Regions from separate parts of the Homo sapiens genome. Here region 2 is linked to region 1. The links come from fine-mapping of genetic effects on gene expression. A gene starts in region 1. The other region holds a variant in brackets. All regions are shown on one strand. Distances are from middle to middle.

Region 1 (5,000 bases):
CTGTTCCCAACTCCGTTTCAAAATTCAGCCAAGATTCCTTGATATGGGATTTCTTTCTATATTTTCTGAAATGCAGTGCCACTTAGAACACTTATTTACTATTATAATATACAATAAAATGTAATTTAAAAAACAACTTTGTAAAATAAGATATTTGTAAGAGCAGTGGTTTTTTTTATATTTGGTCATGTTGTGTGGGGCAAATACAGCTCAGCTTTGGCTTTACTATATTCCTTTTTTAATAATAAAAAAGCAAAATCATATGAAAATTTTCTTACATATAGATCTATTTGTAAAAGCAAAAGAAAATTTATTTCAAGTGTGTAAGGAAAGCGGAAATTACTCAATTGGTTATACATATACTTTTGGATATTTCAATTTCTGTAACGACTGACATCCAGTGAAGCCTTCTTTCAATTTTCTAACATTAATACAAAAGTCATCAAAATGTATAAATGTAAGATGCTTCTAAAAACAACTGTCACATTTAACGTTTTGATTTAGTAATCAGGCCATGATTTTTTCGATTCTAATTTGTTTCTGTACTTTCTCTTTAATGGGGGAGGGGGTGGGCTTCTAAGTCTTCCTCTTGAGTCTTTGTACAATAAAGTGAGCTATTTGCTTCTATTTAGCAAAGCTGGATGGGGCATATCTCTGCATTTGATTGGTTGGTTTTTAAGGGATTACTCCTCTGGAAAGACACTGTCTCATATTGCATTGCTAGCAGCGTGGTCTTAACTGTGGTTAAACTTTTAAATTGAAAATGAACATTTACCATCAAAGAGAACACAAACTTCAGGACTCCTATGTTACACAGATCATACACACCATATTGACCTGTTTTGATAAGAGTTCTGTTTGAATACAATCCTAAACACCATATCCAGAAATAACAACTGTCTCAATGGCATAAATAGGAAATTTGGGGTTCCTCATGTATTACAAAGAAGCCAATAAAACTTAGAATAAATTCCAACTATACAAATAGGCTTCAATAAGATTAACAAAATCTGAGGATGACAGGCAAGTCAACAAGTTAAATAAATTATACTATTTATACCCAGATAAAATAAAACAATGACTTCTAACTTTTATGGTGCATTTCCCACCTAATCAGAGTAAACATCAGACTTCAAATTCCATTTATCATTTTATCTGAAAGAATTTACTGAGTAAAATCCTTAGTTGCAGGGCTTTACACTTGCAATCCATCAGGTTGCAATATTAAAGTTACTACAGCTTCTTCCCCAGTGTAAGCATTCTGTATGTGTTTTATTTACATTGTCACTTTTTATTTCCTCCTCAACTTCGTATGTCTAAGAATGAAACTGGATTGCTATTATGCAACAGTATTTTAACTTTGCAACATACATACTGGCTTATCTCTCCTTTGAACTCCTGTTCCTGAAAAATAAACATATGTATCCAGAAAAACTACCTTGAGGCGTGTGGGGAAGAGTGCAGACATGTAGAAACAAACACTAAAATACAGTCGTGTGGAAAGGTAAGGATGTATCTGTCCTCGTTGACAACAATCCCCGTGGTTTATTAACAGCCACAGGCAGCCAACTTAGTGCCGTAAGTCGGTAACCCAGTGGGCATCGGGGCTTTAAGGTCTCTTAAAACTTAATGTGATTCAAAAATACCCAAGGCAACCACGCCGAAAAACCAGGAGAAAGGGCTCCAGTTAGAGCCTCCTTGGCAACCCAAACCGAACCGAATGACTCAGGTGGACGATTAGAATAAACCGTGCGCCGTTCTCTTTCACTAGGTCTATAAAGCCCAGAAATTATGTTTGGTCCAGAAAACCAGGAGTTATGAGCACCTTCCTTTTCCACCTTTTAATATTCTACATATCTAGCAACGGTTCTTAATCCATGGTCTTCATTCATTTATTGCCTAAACAAGATCTTGGGTGTCTCTTGGTGATCACTTCTTCCAAGCTGACCTAATATGACAGCAAAGTGAAAAGCCTCTTCGTGGGAAGGGTCGCGACCGCGCGGTAAGTCATCCAAAAGTGGAAGCATCTTGCTTTTACTGACTTATGTATACGAGGGTGGCGATGGTGGCGGCCTGACAGGGACGAGGCCGGAGGGGAAGGGGCGCGCGGGCTGCTGGGCAGCCGCGGTGGGGGTGACGGGGGCAGCCACGCTCCCCAGCGCGAGCCGCCGGACCCGGGACCCGACGAGCCCCTCCCGGCATTGCACCCTGACCCCTCTCCTCCTTCCAGGCCTTTCATCTGCCCTCCCGCTGGGCAGCCCGCGGTCCCCGGACCTCAAGCCGCCCGCCTCCTTCCGCAACCCCGTCGCGCCGCCCCGCGAAGCCCTCGGCCGGGCGGGGACCCCGACCCGACCCCTCCGGCCGCGCCCCTCCCCCTCGCAGAACGCACCTGCGGCCCCGCCCCCGGCCGAACGCTGAGGCGGCGGCTGGCTGGCAAGGCCGGGCGGCTCGGCCCTCGAGGCACAGTCACCTTCCCTTCCCCCGCCATTCCGCCCACCCCCCTCACTCAGCCACAGAGCAGCCGCCGCGCTCCTCAGCCGCCCCGAAATCTAAAGGGGTCCGTCTCCGGCACCACTACCAAATGGCCGAGCCTCCCTGGCCGGCTGCGCAGCCCGCCCATTGGTCCCTTCCCCCCCCCGCCGCCACTGCCATTGGCTGTTGCCCGGAGACCCTCGGCGGCGATTGGCTCGGGCCGCTGCCGCTCGTCCATGGGGCCGCAGATCCCGCCTCCACGGCGATCAGGTTAGTGTGCGCCGCGGGTGCTGGGGGCTCGAGAACCGAGCGGAGCTGGTTGAGCCTTCAAAGTCCTAAAACGCGCGGCCGTGGGTTCGGGGTTTATTGATTGAATTCCGCCGGCGCGGGAGCCTCTGCAGAGAGAGAGCGCGAGAGATGGAGATGGGCAGACGGATTCATTTAGAGCTGCGGAACAGGACGCCCTCTGATGTGAGCATTTGCCAAAAATATCTCTGTCGGTCCATTCTCCTACTTTGTGTGTGTGTGTGTGTGTGCGCGCTGGGGGGAGGCACTTTTTTTGGGGGGGGGCGCCCGGGAGGTGCGGGTTTGGGGGTCGGACTGCAAGCGAATTGGCAAGGCTGGGGGGTTGCAATGCCATCCGAGCATGTTCCGGCTGCCGCCGCCGCTGCCCTTGGTGTGTGACTACCTGTGCGTGTGCTCCCGCGTGTGCGAGTGTGGGTGCGAGAGTGTGCGTGCGAGTGTGCACCCATCGGGGGCCGGCGGGCGCACGCGTTTGGGTCGGAGAGAATGAGGCGAAATCACCCTCGGAGATCGCTGCTCCCGTGACTCCGTCTGGGGGGAAGATTAACGAGGGAGGAGGAGGAGAGGGGCTGCCTCCTGGATTTAACAACAAAAAAAGGGGGTTTTACATTTTATAAATGTATCCCCCCTTCCGCCCCCCTCCCGCGCCTCCCCCCTCCCTTTCTCTCGCTCGCTCGCTCGCACACACAATAAGTTTGGGGCTTCGCGAGTCCGGTTTAGTTTCTGATAAATGTGGGCCGAGGCCCCCGGGGAGAGCGCGTGGGGAGGGGGCTGCAGCGGAGTTGGGAATGGCTGGAGTTTAAAGTGCGTCTTCATTTCTTTGCAGTGATGAGGCGAGAGACGGGGGAGCCATATTTGTAACTTTGTAGTGTTCGTGAACGCGCCCTTTCTCTCCCTCCCTCCCTTTCTCTGCCTCCCTTCCTCTCCTCCTCTTTCTCCCTCACTCTTTCCACCCCACCTTCGGGCCAGATGCTGATGTTTCTTCCTTTCCTTCCGAAGGGAGGATAAATTAGAAGGAGGGGGAGGGATTTTCGAACGTGCTAAGGCACAGATAATCCCCGCGTCTCCCTGCCTCCAGCGATCGCTGGTGCAAGTTGCCCAAAGGCTACGTCCCGGTGCCCCCTCGCCCCAGCTCCTTCCGGCTTCCCCAAGATGCCAGCCTTTGGGCCCTGGTGCCCCCCAGCTCGAACCCCCGGCCCGTCTTTCTCAGTGCTGGGCTTGTCGGCAGCCATTCGGCGCCTGCTTAATAAATGGGCACGGGAAACTTTGTCAGGACGCGAGCTGCCCGGAGCTGGCGCCCGTGGTGGGTACTGGCTGGGTCCACGTTTATGCGGGCATGGCAAACACGCAGCTCTAGGATGGGAGTTTGCCCGCTAGCCGCCGTTATTGATTGGGCAGCGGCGGGAGCACGGCCGGAGGAAACTTACACGGGTGGGAATCGCGAGGCTCGAGCGAAAGCTTACCCCTGAGGAGGGGGAAGGTGAGGGTGGGTGACTCGAACGCTGGTTTTTATTTCTGCCTCCCTCTCGCTTTCAAACCTGAGTGTTTTCGGCGAGTTGGCGGCTCTGGGGCGGAGACCCTGGCCAGCTCCCCTCTTGGCCCCTTGGGGGGACCGGGGACGCGCTGGCGGGAGGACGCCCCCAGTCTCGGTGGCCCGAGCTCCATGGAGTTGGGAGTTTGGGCAGCACCGTGCGCTGGCCTGTCGCCCCTCTAGCCCGTTAAACCCGAATCCCGGCGAAGGCAGGCCTCGCTTCCTCTTTTCCCTAGTTCCTCCCCCAAACCTGAGTGAGACTTTTGAAAACAAGATCCTTTTTGTCTACCCCCTCCCCGCCTTAACGCAGCTGTGGACTGGAGACGTGCGAGTGCCTTATGGCGCGCAGGGCGGGGAGGGGGCGGCCGCGGGAGAGGAGGGGGCGCCGCCGGTGGAGGCCGGAGTTTCCGCGCACTATTTGCGGGCGGTTTGCCTCTCTCCGGCCGCTTTCGTCCCGGCCGGGACCCGGCGCCTAGCGTTTGGGGGCTGGGTGTGGTGATGGGGGAGGGGGCCGGGGCCGCGGTCTTCCCGCGTACTTTCCGGAAGCCCCCTGCGCGGAGGGGGAAGGGCGCCAAGCGCGGGGCCGGGGTCGCCGCGGGTGGGTGCGGGGGCGCGGCTGGCCTGGCGAACCCGACCGACGCTGCCGGCCCCCCGGGAGCAAGCAGGAAAGCGGGTCGAACCGGCTCTTTAAACT
Region 2 (5,520 bases), 52 kb after region 1:
ATGAGTAAAGCACAGGCCATGGAGGATAGGGCATTTAGAAGGCTGTAAGGATGGACCATGAGTTCTAAGCTGGCTAGGGAGGGAAGTGAGTCAGCATTGATAGTGAGAAGGTGGGGAAGGTCAACAGATGGAGATGTGCTAGGGCTGAAGGGTTGCTGGGGTTAGTGAGAAGGTCAAGGATGTGACTCTGGGAGCAGGTGTCTCATAGCATACAGGAGCCGACTTTCACTGGAGATGAGGAGGTTGCAGAAGTGAGAAGCCAAGGTATTGGAAGGTTAATCCTTGAGATTGTTGACATTGCTGAGAATGATAATGGGAATAGTAATAGAAAAAAAAATAATGAATCAAAGCTAGTCCTCACTCATGCAGAAGCCAAATGCAGCAACGAAGAGGCACTCATGCCTCTTTGAAGGAGAAGGGAGGAGCCATGGAAGCAGTAATGTGGAACAAAGAACAATGCCCCAGTTCCAGGCTCTGGGGCCCAGGAAGAAGGGGCAGCCATCCTTCTGGCTTCCTCATGAGAAGTCTGCAGGGGGAGTGGAGTTATCAGGCAGGGAGCAAAAGAGGAGGTTCATCAACTGCTTACCAATGGACCACACATGGTCCCAGCAGGTTGAGGACGTGAAAAGGGTAGAAAATAGCCCTTGTTTTTCCTGCTATAACGTTCATGTATTTTCTTAATTAATTTTTAGAGACAGGGTCTTGCTCTGTTGCCCAGTCTGTAGTGCAGTGGAGTAATCTTAGCTCACTGCAGCCTCTACCATCTGGGCAAAAATGATTCTCCCACCTCAGCCTCTTGAGTAACTGCCTGGCTGATTTTTTTAATTTTTTTTTTTTTTTTTATAGAAACAGTGTCTTACTAGGTTACTCAGGCTGAGCTCAAGCAATACTCCCACCACAGCTTCCCAAAGTGCTGGTAAAGTGCTGGGATTGCAGGCATGAGCCACTGTGTCCAGCCACAGAGCACTTGCAGTGCAGCTAGAGACTAAGGAATGGAGCTTTTTTTTTTTTTTTTTTTTTTTTGAGATGGAGTCTCACTCTGTCGCCCAGGGTGGAATGCAATGGTGCGATCTTGGCTCACTGCAACCTCCACTTCCTGGGTTCAAGCGATTCTCCTGCCTCAGCCTCCCAAATAGCTGGGATTACAGGTGCATGCCACCATGCCCAGCTAATTTTTGTATTTTTAGTGGAGAAGGGGTTTCACCACATTGGCCAAGCTGGTCTCAAACTTCTGACCTCAAGTGATCCATCCGCCTTGGTCTCCTAAAGTGCTGGGATTACCAGCGTGAGCCACTGCACCTGGCCTAGTAATGAAGCTTTTAATTATATTTAATTAATTTAAGTGGAAAGAGACACAGGTGGTTATCATATTGGACAACACAGCTCTAGGCTTTGCTCTTCAGGGTCCTGAGCATATACATGGAAGGAAGTATTTTTAAGCTGCTGGTGCAGCAGGGCTAGGGCAGGCTACAGAGCCAGATTTTTCTGTTCCAGTGCTTATGGATGTCCACAGAGATGCTGGCTGTCTTGGGTTCTGCTTGTCTTCTCTGAGTCTTTGGAGATTGCTGGCCTCTCCTTTTGAGGGCTGCCCAACTTCCTGCAGCCCCACACCCTCACTTCTCTGTTCTAACCAGGAACAGATGGCAGTCACTGCCTGTTGTCTCCAATCCACCCACCCTCTCAGACCAGTTCTGGCAAGAAGTTCACTGACTGAGCATCCATTTTCCAGATACATAAGTCAGGTGTCCCCTGTCACCTCTGGCCAGTGTTCCAAACTTCATTGTTAGAATTCAGATGGCAGGGGGAAATCAGGAACACCACTATACCATCCAAGCCCCATCCAGACCATACAACAGGTGTTTTGGACAACTGCAGCAAAGGTTCCTCTATCACCTAAATATGATGGCAGCTCCAGGGCCACAGGCATTCAGTTCACTCTGCTGTTCTCTGCATGACCCAGGCAAAAATGAGCTGCCTAAGCTGGTTGGTCACCAACACTAGGAAGCCCCCTGATTGGTCAGGTTCTGGCTTGGACACCAACCCTTGCTTCAATCATCTGGTGAGGGGGCTCCTGCTTTAATTTATAGGCCCTCTCAACTGTGCTGAAAGAACTGCCTGGGCCCACTTTCCCAGAAGAGGCTGTGGGCGTGCTCACCACTTGGAGCTCCACGGATTGTCTAAGGCAGCAGAGTGCCTGAGTCTGGCTGCCCACACTTCAGCACTCTAGATCCCCCTGTGGGCCTCAGTCACAGAACCTGTCTTTGCTGGCTTCCTTGAACCCTATCCATATTCTACAGGTGCCTACCTGACTTGACTTGCTGGCTTCCTTGAACCCTATTCATATTCTACAGGTGCCTAACTGACTTGACTTGACCTCCATCGTTTTGGTTCCTGGCACAGTCCTTATTACTACTTATCAGCTCGAAGCTGTTGCCATTCAATTCCTTAGCAGGCAAAGCGGGGCAGAAATATGGAGTTTTTGCAGTGAGGGGTCTTAAACAAGAGGATAAACCCATGGTTCTGTTGACATTATGGAGTCAAACTTCTCGACAGATTGGTTTTTAGGAAATGGACCACACTCCAGAAAATAGTAAATGAGAGCAGATATATAAAGATATATGGAGAGAGGTTTTGTTTTTTTTGTTTTTTTTTTTTTTTTGAGACGGAATCTCACTCTGTCACCAGGCTGGAGTGCAGTGGCATGATCTCAGCTCACTGCAACTTCTGTCTCCTAGGTTCAAGCGATTCTCCTGCCTCAGCCTCCCAAGTAGCTGGGATTACAGGCACTTGCCACCACGCCCGGCTATTTTTTTTTTTTTTTTTTTTGTATTTTTAGTAGAGACGGGGTTTTACCACATTGGCCAGGCTGGTCTCAAACTCCTACCCTCAGGTGATTCACCCACCTCGGCCTCCCAAAGTGCTAGATTACAGGCATGCGCCACCTCTCACCTGGCCAAGAGCAGATATTGACCACCATGCCAACCACTGGAGTAGGTATTGGGTGGGGCTACAAAGTTTAAGGAGGCTTGTTTTCTGCTCTGTTTGAAGACAGCAGACTGAAGCACGATTTGGAGTTGAGGTGTCCCTTGAGATTTTATAGTGACAGACAAAATTTTGCCAAATTTGATCAGCAGCCACCAAAAATGAGAATTCTTAAAACTGTCTCAGAATGGAA[A/G]GAGGCTTCTGACACTTAAAAATGCAGTTTCTAGCTTTCTAGGAGGAAAAAGGTACAGTAGGGGATGTTACAATATTTATTGAAAAGAAGAGAAAACAATTACTGTGCATACAAATGGGGATAGTATGTAAAGTTTATTGTCACCTGAAAAGTTAACATGCTCTAGATTCAGTAAGAAAAAAAAAATTAAAAAATGAGAAAAATATTTGAACAGACCACAAAAGAAGAGCTCCTACAAGCATGGGAATGGGGACTAATTGGAAAGAGGCACAAGGGAACTGCCTGCGGGGGATGGAATTATTCTCTTTACTGGAGTGTGGATTACACATGTGTATACATTTGTCAAAATTCATAAGCACGTGAAAAAGTGCCCAACATCATGAATCATCAGGGAAATGCAAATAAAACCCACAATGAGTTATCACTCATCCACTAAAGCAGTGAAAATTAAGGAGACTGACAACACCAAAAGTTGGTGAGGATGTGGAGCAATCAGAGAGCTATGTATTGGCTGGTGGGCTTGGAAAATGGTACAACCTCTTAGGGAAACATTCTGGCAATTTTTAATTTTATAATTGTATACATACCTTCCAACCCAGCAATTTTTTTTTCTTTTTCTTTTTCGTTTTGTTTTGTTTTTGTTTTTGAGACAGACCTCATTGGGTCACCCAGGTTGGAGTGCAGTGGCATGATCTCAGCTCACTGCAATCTTTGCATGCCCCCTCCCCAATTCCCCCCTGACCCCTGGGGGCTCAAGCGATCCTCTCACCTCAGCCTCCCAAGCAGCTGGGACCACCACAGGTGTGCACTACCACACCCAGCTATTATTTCTTTGTATTTTTAGTAGAGACAGGGTCTCGCTATATTGCCTAGGCTAGTCTTAAACACCTGGACTCAAGTGATCCACCTGCCTTGATCTCCCAAAGTGCTGGGATTACAGGTGTGAGCCACTGCGCCCAGCCGGACCCAGCCATTCTATGCCATGATATTTACCCAACAAAAGTAAAATACATTCACAAAAGACTTGTACAAGAAAGTTTACAGCAACTTTGTTTGTCATAGCCCCAAACCGGAAACAACTCAAATGTCCAAAAACATGAATGAAAAAAAAATTGGGGTGTATCTATACAACAGAATAGTACCCAACGATAAAAATCAGTGAATTACTGATAAGCACCACCCAGAAGAATCTCAGAAACATTATGCTGAGCAAAACCAAGCCAGACACAAAAGTGTACACCCCATATCCATTTATATAAAATTTAATAGCAAGCCTCTGCCAGCATGGAAATGGGGACTGATTGAAAAGAGGCATGAGGGAACTGCCTGAAGATGGAATTATTCTCTTAATTTGAGTGCAGATTACACGTGTGTATGCATTTGTCAAAATCTGGCTAGGTGCAGTGGCTTATGCCTATAATCCCAGCACTTTGGGAGGCCAAGATGGGTGGATCACCTGAGGTCAGGAGTTTGAGACCAGCCTGGCCAACATGGTGAAACCTCGTCTCTATTAAAAATACAAAAAATTAGCCGGGCCTCGTGGCACGTGCCTGTAGTCCCAGCTACTCGGGAGGCAGAGGCAGGAGAATTGCTTGAACCCGGGAGGCAGAGGCTGCTGTGAGCTGAGATCACGCCACTGCACTCCAGCCTGGGCGACAGAGTGAGACTCCATCTCAAAAAAAAAATCAACATGTTTTTGTGCTAACCCCTATCGACTCCAGTGATGATGGCACTAGGCTCTAGAGGCCAAAGAAGAGACCCAGAGCCACCAAATGTGACACGGAGTTTTACTGGGGGCTTACCTGTAGGAGAGAGAGTGCAGTCGTGGTGGCCAGGCAGAAGAAATGCAACTGCTTGCAAAAGGCATGCAGTTGATACAGCATTTCCACTTAGCACCCTAACAACCTTCACCTGGCAACCTTCATTCAGCTCAGAACTCAGAGACTCAATCTCCCATATGGGCTGTCTTCCGCAGGGTGGGACTGGGGCTCAGATGTTCCTCATAGACAAGGAACAAATCTCCAGGTTGGCCACTCCCAGATGCCCTAGTTCACATTCAGGTGTGTCTGCCATACGGGGTCATTTTCAGGGTAACCCTAAGTTATTGCTATCAGGTGCATTTACCAAACACATATAATATTTGTGCATTTCACTGTGTGTACACTACAAAAATAAAAAAACATAAATAGAGAACTTTTATTAATGATATGCATGTTGAGGCATTTAGAGATGAAGTGCACTGATTTCTGCACTTTGACGTGCATAAAAAATAAGATTAATTGATGTATATATGGTAAAGTAAATACAGCAAAATGTTCATTATAGAATCTAGGTAGTAAATATAT

Direction of the effects. Positions count from the first base shown, and alleles are read on the strand shown. Sizes are in standard deviations (SD) of each study's normalised expression.
As copies of A replace G in region 2, the expression in tibial artery of the gene that starts at base 2,746 in region 1 goes down (small effect, 0.36 SD a copy in GTEx).

The links.
Region 2: its variant is fine-mapped to the expression of ANP32A in tibial artery (GTEx, PIP above 0.99).

The regions. Positions count from the first base shown.
Region 1 is chr15:68,818,641-68,823,640 of GRCh38, reverse strand. It overlaps ANP32A (acidic nuclear phosphoprotein 32 family member A), which reads left to right and starts at 2,746. Exons shown (of 7, transcript NM_006305.4): 1 at 2,746-2,943. The coding sequence starts at 2,890. RefSeq lists enhancers at 1-184, 3,466-4,047, 4,048-4,629 and silencers at 2,205-2,264, 2,335-2,494, 2,545-2,794, 4,295-4,404, 4,665-4,904 and 1 more.
Region 2 is chr15:68,766,527-68,772,046 of GRCh38, reverse strand. No RefSeq gene overlaps it. Among named protein-coding and RNA genes, the nearest start is that of MIR4312, 33 kb to the left of the region's middle. The variant A/G (reference allele first, on the strand shown) is at 3,176.